Linked DNA regions of Homo sapiens. The protein of the gene in region 2 interacts with the protein of the main gene of each other region in a pairwise test. Each region holds a gene or a part of one and is shown on either strand. Other genes may lie near its edges. The genes, in order: CERT1 and CSNK1G2.

Region 1 (5,476 bases), on a different chromosome or scaffold from region 2:
CACGTTGTATGAAAAACTGTGGGACACAGGGACTCCAATTCATTATTGCTGTTGAGATGGTCAATTACTATAACCTCTATGAAAAGTAGTATCTAAATTATGCACAAACCCCTAGCAGGGCCAGTAGTACCACATCTATTAATTTTCCCACATATAAACTTGCAAGTACAAAATGACATATGGATACAATTATGACACTGCTCTGGCAGAAATTGGAAACTGTAATATTCGCCAATGCAGAACTGATTAAATAAATTATGTACATCTATACAATGGGATACTGTATAACCATCAAAATGAGGAAGCTCCTTACAAATATGTGAGACCTTCAAGATAAAATAAATGCAAATATAAGATGTTGAACAGTGTTTATAGTATGCTGCTGCTTCTTTAACAACAAAAAAAGTGTATCTGTGTAGAAAATACACTTGTATTTGTTCATTCAAGCATTAAAAACTTTCTAGAAGAAACTAGTAATAGCATATGTTAATACTATATGGTGAATGCAAGACAGGGTAAATTTTACTGTATAACTTTTTCATACTTTTGACTTTATTTATTTATTTTTTGACAGACATTACCTGTCCAGGCTGGAGTGCAGTCGTGTAATCACAGCTCACTGCAGCCTCAAACTCCCAGACAAAGCGATCTTCCTGCTTCAGCCTCCCAAGTACCTAGGACTATACATGTATACCACCACGCCTAATTGTTTTTTGTCAAGATGGAATCTTGCTATGTTATCCAGGCTAGACTTGAACTCCTGGCCTCAAGCCATTCTCCCACCTCAGTCTCCCAAAAAGTGTTGGGATTACAGGTGTGACCCACTGCACCTGGCCACTTTTGGCTTTTAATCATGTTAACGTATCACTTACTTTAAAAAGTTAAAGATTTTGGGCTGAGTGCAGTGGCTCACGCCTGTAAACCCAGCATTTTGGGAGGCCCAGGAGAGCAGGTCACCTGAGGTAAGGAGTTCGAGACCAGCCTGGCCAACATGGTGAAACCCTGCCTCTACTAAAAATACAAAAATAGGCTGGGCGTGGTGATGGACGCCTGTAATCCCAGCTACTCGGGAGGCTGAGGCAGGAGAATCGCTTGAACCTGGGAGGCAGAGGTTGCAGTGAGCCAAGATTGCACCACTGCACTCCAGCCTGGGCAGCAAGAGAGAAACTTTGTCTCAACAACACCAAAATAAAGTTAAAGATTCTACCTCTTTGCATAAAGGTGTTCAGTGCTGTACTGGTTGACAGTAAAAATATGGAACCAACTCAGACATTAACATGGGACTAGTTAATAAATTCTGCAACATGCATGTAACAGATGTTAAAAGAATGAGATGTTTTACACATCTCATGTCTTATAAAGAAAGATAGTCAAGATACATTGTTAAGTGAAAAAAAGGTTATAAAACAAGAATTTTGTATAATAGTAAGTATAAACATTTTAACATTCAAAAATATGTCAGTACATACACAGAAAAATCTGGAGGAATATACAACAAAAATAACAGTTTCTGGGAAAGGAAAGAATACAGGAAGTTTGCACTTCTACAATTCTACAGTTCTATAATATCAAAATTTCTTTACATAAGCATTAGAAGAAAAAGGAAACAATAAAAGAATTAAGTTTTAAAGGCTATAAACTACAATTTTCAAGGCCAGGCACGGTGGCTCATGTCTGTAATCCCAGCACTTTGGGAGGCTGAGGCAGGAGGATTGTCTGAGGCCAGGAGTTCAAGACCAGCTTGGGTAACATAGCAAGACCCCTATCTCTACAAAAAATAAAAAATTAGCTGAGCATGGTGGCACATGCCTGTGGGGACTCCCAGCTACTGGGAAGGCTGAGATGAGAGGATTGTTTGAGGCCAGAGGTTGAGGTTGCAGTGAGCCGTGATGGTGTCATTGCACTTCAGCTTAGGAAACAGAGCAAGACCCTGTTTAAAACAACAACAACGACAACAACAAAAACCAACGAAACAATACTCTATAGGGGAACATCAAAAAACATAGTAAATACTTTCAACAACTAAATTTTAGTATTGACAGTCATATTAGTCAAATAAAGTTAAAAAAAGATAAAACATATCTTCTAGTACCTGTTAATACTAGAACAAAATAGGCTTTCCTGCAGTTTTTTCTTGGACGTAAGAAGTAAAACGTTTTAGAAATTTAGGATACTCTCGCTTTGCCACTGCCCTTAACACTGAGGCTGGTGCCCATCCTCCAGGGTTCACTGCAAGATAAAGGAAAATTAAAATGTATTAAGATACAATTCTCCAAACATATGTGAAGCACTTAATTTGTTCCCTTGTTTTTAAAATATTCCTCACATTGGACCAATTAGCATCTTTTTTTTTTCTTTTTGAGACGGAGTCTTGCTCTGTTGCCAGGGTGCAGTGCAGTGGCGCGATCTTGGCTCACTGCAACTTCCGCCTCCGGGGTTCAAGTGATTCTCCTGCCTCAGCCTCCGGAGTAGCTGGGATTACAGGTGCACGCCACCATGCCCAGCTAATTTTGTATTTTTAGTAGAGATGGGTTTTCACCATGTTGGCTAGGATGGTCTCGAACTCTTGACCTCATGATCCGCCCGCCTCAGCCTCCCAAGGTGCTGGGATTACAGGCTGAGTCACTGTACCCAGCTGGACCAATTATGATCTTTTAAGTCCCAACCCTTCATTCCTTAACACTATCCATCAGACATAATCAGACAGCAAATAAGAAAGCATCTATAACCTTTCTACAATGTTCTTAGTTCCCGAAATTACCTGCAAAAATTAGTATAGCACCACTTAAGGTTATTTAGGGCAGATTATTCACAAATCTGTACTATAATGAAATAGTAACTTACTCAGGTACAACTGTTTCTTTGAACATACTAGCAGTTATGGCCCTGTATAAAGAAGGTATGACTTTTGATGAGAGAGGTTGCAATGATTACTCCAGGTGCAAAGCAGGTGAAGTAAGGACCCAAAGCAAGCAATGAAAAGACCTATCCAAAGTGAAACAAATATATGTAACTAGCAACTAATAAGGACTAGGGAAACGCTGACTCAGAAAACAAAAAGCCTGACAATGAATGTCAAAGAGAAATAAATATGTAACTAGCAACTAATAAGGACTAGGGGAACATTGATTCAGAAAGCTAAAAAGGCTGACAATGAGTAAAAGAACTCTTAATTTCCTTCCCCACTGTTGCTTATATTCCTAATAATAAATCTGTTCTATGAGGCAAATATCTAAGAAAATGGTGCTTAATATGAAGGCTAGGTCGAGCGCAGTGGCTCACGCCTGTAATCCCAGCACTTTGGGAGGCCGAGGTGGGTGGATCACGAGGTCAGGAGTTCAAGACCAGCCTGGCCAAGATGGTGAAACCCCGTCTCTACTAAAAATACAAAAAACTAGCCAGGCGTGGTTGTGGGCACCTGTAATCCCAGCTACAGAGGCAGAGAATCGCTTGAACCCAGGAGGCGGAGGCTGCAGTGAGCTGAGACTGCACCACTGCACTCCAGCCTGGGCAACAGAACGAGACTCCATCTCAAAAAAAAAAAAAAAAAAAAAAGAAGGGTATATACAGTGACCTAGGGATAAAGTTTTAAAATTTTCCTATCCAGCTCTAGCTTCAGAAATACTCATATAGTAGTAGTTCCAGGGTGAAATTCAGACATCTGTACTTTCAAAGATTCTCTAGTAATTCTGATATACCTTTCTCCAAATTAAAAATTAGTAATCTAATGGATAAGAACTAAAAAGGCATTTGTCCAAATTGTTGTCATATAGGTCATGATCAAGAACAGCCACATTATCAAAGAGCAAAAACAATAAAATACATACCATTAGCTACATATGTAATCTTGCATAGAATGTTGTCCCTGCTAATTTCCTGGTTTCCCTCTGGTGGGCTTACCAAGGTTTGACAAATCATAGCAACATTTATTTTGGCACGGACACATCGGTTGTTTAGCTGCCAAAACAAAAAACAAAGCATCAGTAGATACCCAGTATTTTGTAAACTCTGCTGGTCTAATATTATATTAGGTTAACCAAAATCGTAACTCTTAAAAGTATCTCCAGTGAAATCTTATAAGCACCAAGCTGATATGACACCAGGATTCCTCCCCACCCACTTTTTCTGGGGACAAGGTCTTGCTCTGTTGCCCACTCTGGAGTGCAGTGGTGCCATCATAGTTCACTGCAGCTTCAAACTCCTGGGCTCAAAGCAATCCTCCCGCCTCAACCTCCAGAGTAGCTGGGACCACAGGTGCACATCACCAGGCCTGGCTAATTAAAAAAAAAAAAAAAATTTTTTTTAATAGAGATGGGGTCTAACCATGTTGCCCAGGATCCCTTCCTCTTAAGTAGTAAATGGAGCTAAATTGTGGTAAACCACAGAGGTTTGGCTGGCAGTTGATAACGGCTTAAGAGATAACTGTGGGAAGTAGCCTACTGCCCAGTGTATGTACTGCCCTTTTGGCTGTTTCACGAAACATTAGAAGGAAAGGTAAACGGCCCTGGTGGAATGTTCATAGGCATGACTGTTGCCCTCAGACAACACATGGGCTATACTGTTCCTAGCAGTCAATCCAACATAAAATCTAAGAACCATTATCAAATCAAGTATAGTGTATGGGCTGTGTTTATCATTTTTGTCCCGCATTGTGTATTTAGCTTTATATTGTTTAATTATACACATTTATATACATGTACTTACAGGAGCACTGTCATGATCCACAGAAAAATTACAAACTATCCAAGTTTCAGGGTCATTTTCAGTCAAGGCTGGTATCTTTCGAATGACAGAAAGATATAATACGTCTCGCTGAGAAGCAGGCCACACCCTCTGTGGAGAAGTAAAAATCTTTTGAAAAACAGATCTAACATGGAACTAACAAGAGAAACGTAATGCCAATAAATGTCTTAATTGAAGGTAAAATCTCTCAAATTTTAAATGGAAAGCATCTGAGGATATCTACCAAATGATTAATTATGAACAGAGTTAATAGCTTTGCAGAACAATATAATAAAAGGAATAATGTTCTATTTTTTTAATTGCAGTAAAATATATACACGTATAATTTGTCATTTTAACTAACTTTTAGGGTACAATTCAGGGACATTAATTACATTCACAGTGTTATGTAACCATATTGCTATCTCTGAAATTTATCATCATCCCAAACAGAAACTCTGTACCCAGTAAGCAACAACTTTCCATTCCTCTCTCCTCATACTCCATGATTATGTTCTACTTAGATTCAAAGATTTAATGAAAAAAGACTTATTTGAATCAAATCACATTAGAAAGAATTCTAAGTCACTTAGATTAAATATTTCAATATTAAGGTATGCAAGGGGAAACATATACTATGGGAATGACATGGAGCCTAGGTCTTCAATAAATGGGACTACCTACTTTAAATGAGAAAAAAAACCTTTTATCCTATTTAAGTTACTTTTATTTTGGTTATCTCGTATATGTATCT
Region 2 (7,121 bases):
CATGTGGCCCAGCGCCTCCAGGTCGTCGCGGCGGCTCTGCTCTGCGGGGACAGGGGCGCAGCCTCAGCGGGGTCCGGGCGCCCGCCCCCCGCCGCGCGCGCGCAGCTCACCCTTGCCCAGGTGCGTGTTGATGCTCATGTAGCGCGCCGTGCCCGTCAGGCTCTTGTGCTCGCGGTACGGGATGTGCTTCTTGGTCTCGGGGTCGATGTACTCCTTGGCCAGCCCGAAGTCGATGATGTGGATGGCATGCTGCCGCTTGGTCCCCGGGCGGCCCACCAGGAAGTTCTCGGGCTTCACGTCCCGGTAGATTAGGCTCTTGGTGTGCACATACTCCATGCGCGTGATCTGCAGGGGGGCACGGCGGTGTCGGCCGGGCCCCTCCCCGTCCCACGCGCTCCCCTCCAGGGCCACCCTCTTCCCTCCGAGCCCCGCCCCGCCCCGCCCGCCGCGCACCAGCTGGATGGCGATCATCAGCACCGTCTTGAGCGTGAAGGTCCGGTCGCACAGGTCGAACAGGTCCTCCAGGCTGGGCCCCAGCAGCTCCAGCACCATGGCGTTGTACTTCCCGCACGGACCGAAGTAGTAGACCTGAGGGACGCCCTCTGCGGCGGAGGACAGACGCACGGGCGTGCGGCGGCAGCCCCCTCCCTGCCCCTGCGCAGCCCCCGCCCCACCCGCGGGCCGCCCGGTACCTGTGGCGCTGAGCTGCTTGTAGAACCGGTACTCCAGGTGCAGCTGCGGGGCCCGGGACTTGATCGGCTCCTGGGGGCACAAGAGCGAGTCACCAGGGGACCGGGTCGCTGCCCTGAAATCCCTGGGGGGCACGTCAGCGGGGGTGGGGTGGAGGGGCCGACTCACCAATTTGATAGCCACGTATTCATTTGTATAGAGATTCTTTCCTGCGGGGACAGAGACCATCAGCACCGCCAGCGCAGGGCCCACCTAGCCCCGACCTCCCCAGCCCACCCCCGAGGCAGGAGGCAGGAGGGGGTCCCTGAAGGACCACCCTCCAAATGACACCACTGCCCAGCAGCAGGGCCTGGGCCCAGCCTGCCAGAGCACTGCACCATGGCCTGCCAAGTCATCCCGACACCTGCACCCTGCCCGTGTGGTCACCGCCTCAGTGTCTGCCACTCCTCCTCCCCCGCCCCCCCACCTCCCTAGCCCAGGACAGAAGCGGCACTGGGGAGGTCTCTCACGGCCTGCAGGCAGCCCCAAGGGCTCCACACTCCTCCACCCCTTTCTCAAAGACAAATCTCCCACATGCCCGAGGCCCTCGGCCCCCAGGTGAGCCCCAGCACAGATGGACAGGGACCTGTGGCCCACATGGGTTAGAAGAGAGGAGCCCAGGTCCTGTTCCCTGGGGCCACCAGCCACATAGGACTTCCAGGGCTGAGTCTCATGAAAGCGCAGAAGGTACGAGGCCCAGAACCTTTTTTTTTTTTTTTTTTTTGAGACGGTGTCGCTCTGTTGCCCAGTCTGGAGTGTAGTGGCGAGATCGCAGTTCACTGCAGCCTTTGTCTCCCAGGCTCAAGCCATCCTCCCATCTCAGCCTCCCAAGTAGCTGGGACTACAGGTGCGCACCACCACACCCAACTAATTTTTGTATTTTTAGTAGAGACGGGGTTTCTCCAAGTTGCCCGGGCTGATCTTGAACTCCTGAGCTCAAGCGATCTGCCTGCCTCAGCCTCCCACAGGGCTGGGATAACAGGCGGGAGCCCCTGTACAGGCCAGGGTGCAGCTTTTTACATGTTACACCCCCTGAGGAAGGAGGCGGCCAGCCCTTAACACAGAGGCGCTCTGCAGGGGCAGCTGTGGAAGCCGGCCTGGGAGGGGGCACGGCCCCACCCACTGTGGTGACTCAGCACCCGAGGGGTGAGCCTAGAGGTGAACAGGCCGGTCCCTGCAGGCACACGGCCCTGGAGGGCTCCCCACGGCAGCTGGGCCAGACGACAGGCATGAACGTGTCTGGCACCCATGTGTCTCCAGCCCAGGATGGCACTGGGGCCATAGCTACCATCTGCTGGGCGACCTGTCCCGCGGCATGACAGGGCACCATGTGGGGCAGCCCCGTCTCTCAGGCACCATCCAGCTGGGTCACCGTGTTGGGTCTGCAGTCAGCTGCCTTTGCCCGAGTAGCATACGCTGCAGAATGAGGCCTCTGTGGCCGGGCACGGTGGCTTATGCCTGTAATCCCAGCACTTTGGGAGGCTGACGCAGGCGGATCACCTGAGGTCGGGAGTTCGAGACCAGCCTGACAAACATGGAGAAACCCCATCTCTACTAAAAATACAAAATTAGCCTGGCATGGTGATGCATGCCTGTAATCCCAGCTACCAGGGAGGCTGAGGCAGGAGAATTGCCTGAACCCGGGAGGTGAAGGTTGTGGTGAGCTGAGATGGTGCCATTGCACTCCAGCCTGGGCAACAAGAGAGAAACTCTGTCTCAAAAAAAAAAAAAAAGAAAGCAAGAAAGAGGCCTCCACTTTGTTCCGCCCTGCTGCAGCTGGACTGGCAGGGTGGCCGTGGAGACAATGGGTTTGGAAACCCTGCTAAGGTGGATTCAAAGTCCCAAAGCCCGGTGGCTGAGCTGTACACAGTCATGACCTCATAGTCTGAGGCTGGGGTCCCACCTGGGCCCTGAGAGCCTCTTCCCCCGGCTAGTGCCCCGTCCTGGGCGTGCCTTGCAGCACAGGAATCGCTGGGGCTCCTTCTGGCACTGCCCTGTCCGCATCACTACCTGGGCTCTATTTCAGCACAGTTTCCAATCAGCTTGTCAAGTTCCCTAAACAGCCTCAACAACGTGGCATCTTGAGGGTGCAGGATCGTGAGGACGAGGGAAGACCAGGTGCCTCCCTGCAGCCCTGAGCCCGGGACCAGGGCTGGTCTCTCCAGTCCTGAGCCAGGGACCAGGGCAACCCCTCCAGTCCTGAGCCGGGGACCAGGGCTGGTCCCCGCGTTTTCAGAACAAATGGGCTCCCCTCCTACGTTCTCCCCAGTGTAACACGTTATTAGGAAATTCTCCTCGTAAAACAACAGGAGCCGTGCCCCAAACACCCAACACTCATTGCCGAGGCCCCAGAACTAAACCTGCCACACGGTCCATCCTCACAGCTACCATCCACCGGTCCATTTTATTTTTAGAGGGATTTCAAAGTTTTTTTCTTTTTGGAGCAGAGTCTCGTTCTGTTGCCCAGGCTGGAGTGCACTGGCGCGATCACGGCTCACTGGAACCTCTGCCTCCTGGGTTCAAGCGATTCTCCTGCCTCAGCCTCCTGAGTAGCTGGAATTACAGGCAGGCACCATCAACCTGGCTAATTTTTGTATTTTTACTAGAGATGGGCTTTCTCCATGTTGTCCAGGCTGGTCTCGAACTCCTGACGTCAGGTGATCCGCCCACATCAGCCTCCCAAAGTGTTGGGATTACAGGCGTGAGCCACTGTGCCTGGTCAGATTTCGAAGTTTTAGAGCTCAGGACACTGCCCCAGGTTTGAAGTTTTAGAGCTCAGGACACTGCCCCCTGAATCAGCTGCAGGTTCAGTCCAGCATTTGCGTGTCCTTCCTGCGCTGCCCTTCGGAGGTGGGATTCACAGTGGATTCATCCCCCCTTCCCCGCCCAAAAGGCTGCCCCTGCGGTGGGCTCCTCGCCGTGTCGTGCTGCGTGTGCCCGCCTGGTGCTGTGCCGCGGCTCACAGGGAGGATGGGGTTTGGTTTGCCCATCTGCCCTTGAGGCACGCCCTCCCGTCTCCAGTTCTGACTCTCCAGAGCGGAGTTCCGGCGAACACGGCTGTGTAGCTCTTCCTGCGGGCAGCCGTCCCCTTCTCCGGCAAAGTGTCAGTCACGTGCTGACCACCAAGCACTGAGCTGCGCTCCCCCAGGCTGAGGAGGACAAGCCCTCGCCTGTGTGCTACACCGTCCCTCTGCTGTCTGTCGATGTATCATCCAGCTGTGGCTCCCTGACGGGCAGGCGGATGCTCGCCAACGTCCTCCCCAGCCTGGCTGGCCTCATGCTCTTGGCAGCGTCTTGATGGGCGGGCCTTTGAAGCTCTGATGCATCTGATGGTGATGGGGTCCTTCCCGGCTCTTCTACTCTGCACTGTGGAAGAAACCTTCGCCTGAACCCCACCGCTGTGTGCGGCTGGCGTGTCAGAGACCTGGGTGTGTGCTGGGTGGGTGTGGCAGCATCTGAGGCCTGTGGATCTGCAGACTCCTGGAGGAGGTCGGGCGCTCTGGGCTCTGAAAGCCAAAGGGGCCTCCTCCGGCAGTACTCGCGATGCATGCAGAGGGCAGGAGAGCCCACGGGGCCTGGCAGAGAACAGCTCCAGAGAGGCTCAGGAGGTTCCGGGGGACACACAGGAGGGAGGACGCCACAGCTCCAATGGCCGGAGTGCGGGGTCCTCCCTGGATTCTCTACTTCAGCTGAGAACCCAAAAGGTCCACACCTTGGCACAGGGCTCCCTGGCCTTGGAGTCGCTCATGTTTACCCTCAGCCTTGCCCCAGCAACGCTGAAACCAACCTGACAGAAACAAGGTGAGCCACGGGGACAAACTCAGCGCTCAAGCCGGGAGACGGCACCCTCCACACCTCACGGCACACACCACGGCCACGCCCAGTGAGGCTGTCCCACAGGTGAGTGAGGGAGGTGTGACCGTGACAAGGGAGGAAGAAGCAGCACAGACGTCACTCCACACAGTGCTGTGTCTTTGATGCACCCCCCAAGGGTCATGTGTTGGGAACCTGGTCCCCAATCCAGCACTGCTGGGGCTGGGGCTGGGGCCTAGAGAGAGGATCTGAGTCGCTGCCCTCGTGGATGAGTGAATGCCATCAGCAGGGGAGTGGGTTCCTGACTAAAGGGCGAATCCAGCCCCCTCCGGTCTGTGCCGTCCTGCCTTCCACCATGCCTTCTTGCCATGACATGGCAAGAAGGTCTTTGCCAGACGCCACCCTCAATCTGGGGCTCACCAGCCTCCAGAACGGTGAGCCCATCAATTTCTGTTCATTATAAATGATCTGGCCAGGTGCAGTGGCTCATGCCTGTAACCCTAGCACTTTGGGAGGCTGAGGCAGGTAGATCACGAGGTCAGGAGTTTGAGACCAGCCTAGCCAACCAACACACAGTGAAACCCTGTCTCTACTGAAAATACAAAAATTAGCTGGGTGTGGTGACGGGCGCCTGTAATCCCAGCTACTCGGGAGGCTGAGGCAGGAGAATTGCTTGAACCCGGGAGGCGGAGGTTGTGGTGAGCCAAGATAGTACCACTGCACTCCAGCCTGGGCAACAGAGCAAGACTCCATCTCAAAAAATAATAAATAATAAATAAAAATAAATGACCCAGTCTGTGGCATTCTGTTACAGCAGCACAAAATGGACTAAGAAACAGCACAAACATGTTCAAAGATTTAAAGGAAAAGATGGCCAAAGTGAATGTGCACATGGGAAATCTCAGCTGAGAGCGAATGGACAATCAGACGAAACCGAAAAATGCCACTAAGCAATCAAAGATTCACCACATGGACTTCTGGGGTTGGAGGCTGCAGAAAAAGAGTAAACTTTCAAGCAGCAGCAGCAGCAGCCGCACAGCCTGACACCAGGAGAGCACAGAGGCAGACGGAAAACAGCCAGGGCTGAGGGACCTGGGGACAGGGCCAAGCACTCCTGTCACACGCAGAACCAGAACCCAGGAATGAGAGCAAGGCTGGGTATGGTGGCCCACGCCTGTAATCCCAGCACTTTCAGAGGCCAAGGCGGGCAGATCACCTGAGGTCAGGAGTTTGCCAACATGGCAAAACCCTGTCTCTACTAAAAATACAAAAATTTAGCTGGGCGTGGTGGCAGGCACCTGTAATCTCATCTACTTGGGAGGCTGAGGCAGAATTGCTTGAACCCAGGAGGCGGAGGTTGCAGTGAGCCGAGATCGCGCCACTGCACTCCAGCCTGGGCAAGAGAGTGAGACTCTGTCTCAAAAAACCAAAGCAAGGCCAGGCGCGGTGGCTCACGCCTGTAATCCCAGCACTTTGGGAGGCCGAGGCGGGCAGATCACGAGGTCAGGAAATGGAGACCATCCTGGCTAACACGGCGAAACCCCGTCTCTACTAAAAATACAAAAAATTAGCTGGGTGTGGTGGCGGGCGGCTGTAGTCCCAGCTACTTGGGAGACTGAGGCAGGAGAATGGCACGAACCTGGGAGGCAGAGCTTGCAGTGAGCTGAGGTTACGCCACTGCACTCCAGCCTGGGTGACAGAGCGAGACTCTGTCTCAAAAAAAAAAAAAAACAAAGCAGGCGAGGCGCGGTAACTCACATGTGTAATCCCAGCACTTTGGGAGGCCGAGGCAGGTGGATCACCTGAGGTCAGGAGTTCAAGACCAGCCTGGCCAACAAGGTGAAACCCCATCTCTACTAAAAATATAAAAAATTAGCCAGGCATGGTGGCTCACGCCTGTAATCCCAGCTACTCGGGAGGCTGAGGCAAGAGAATTGCTTGAACCCGAGAGGCAGAGGTTGTGGTGAGCCGAGATGGTGCCACTGCACTCCAGGCTGGGCAACAAGAGTGAAACTCCATCTCAAAAACAAAACAAAACAAAGCAAAGCAAAGCTGAGATGGAAAAACGTTTCATGAAATAATGGCTCACATTTTTCCAAAGTTAATTTGAAAAAGTACCAACACAGAGATCCAAGAAGTCAGTGGATCCCAAGCAGGATAAAAACAGAAAGCCTCATCTAAGGAGAGCATAGTCAATATTTTAAATCAAAGATAAAAACCTTAAAAACAGAAAAAACGACACATTCTAGAACATTCTAGACAACGGAACAACATTCAACAACCGGAGTCCACAACAGGCTCAACATCAAAGCCACCAACAGTCCTGAGTGCTGGGGACGTGGAGTGCTCGAGGAGCCCAGTGCTATTCAGTTCTATTTGGGCAGTTAGTTCTATTCAGAAGGGCCCAAATCCAGAAACAGCCAAGCGTCCCTGCGCTGGGAGCAGATGAAGAAGGGCTGGTGTGTCCTCCGATGGACGGCCTCCCGGCACCCCTGAGAAACCACGATGTGCGGCTGCCCGCGAAGCACACAGCGCCCAAAATGCCAGGCTGAAGAGAGCGCAAACCGCAACTCAGTAAA

What was found.
Region 1: the proteins of CSNK1G2 (region 2) and CERT1 interact in binary tests that used the Homo sapiens proteins (3 or more experiments, as listed by UniProt).

The regions. Positions count from the first base shown.
Region 1 is NC_000005.10:75,377,245-75,382,720, forward strand, and holds the end of CERT1 (ceramide transfer protein), read right to left. Parts: intron 4,834-5,476; coding exon 4,705-4,833; intron 3,958-4,704; coding exon 3,828-3,957; intron 2,230-3,827; coding exon 2,102-2,229; 3' UTR 531-2,101; downstream 1-530. UniProt on the Homo sapiens protein: Shelters ceramides and diacylglycerol lipids inside its START domain and mediates the intracellular trafficking of ceramides and diacylglycerol lipids in a non-vesicular manner.
Region 2 is NC_000019.10:1,972,083-1,979,203, reverse strand, and holds part of CSNK1G2 (casein kinase I), read right to left. Parts: intron 4,096-7,121; exon of another isoform or gene 3,133-4,095; coding exon of another isoform or gene 3,090-3,132; intron 900-3,089; coding exon 859-899; intron 763-858; coding exon 693-762; coding exon of another isoform or gene 603-692; coding exon 454-602; intron 346-453; coding exon 111-345; intron 42-110; coding exon 1-41. UniProt on the Homo sapiens protein: Serine/threonine-protein kinase. Casein kinases are operationally defined by their preferential utilization of acidic proteins such as caseins as substrates. It can phosphorylate a large number of proteins. Participates in Wnt signaling.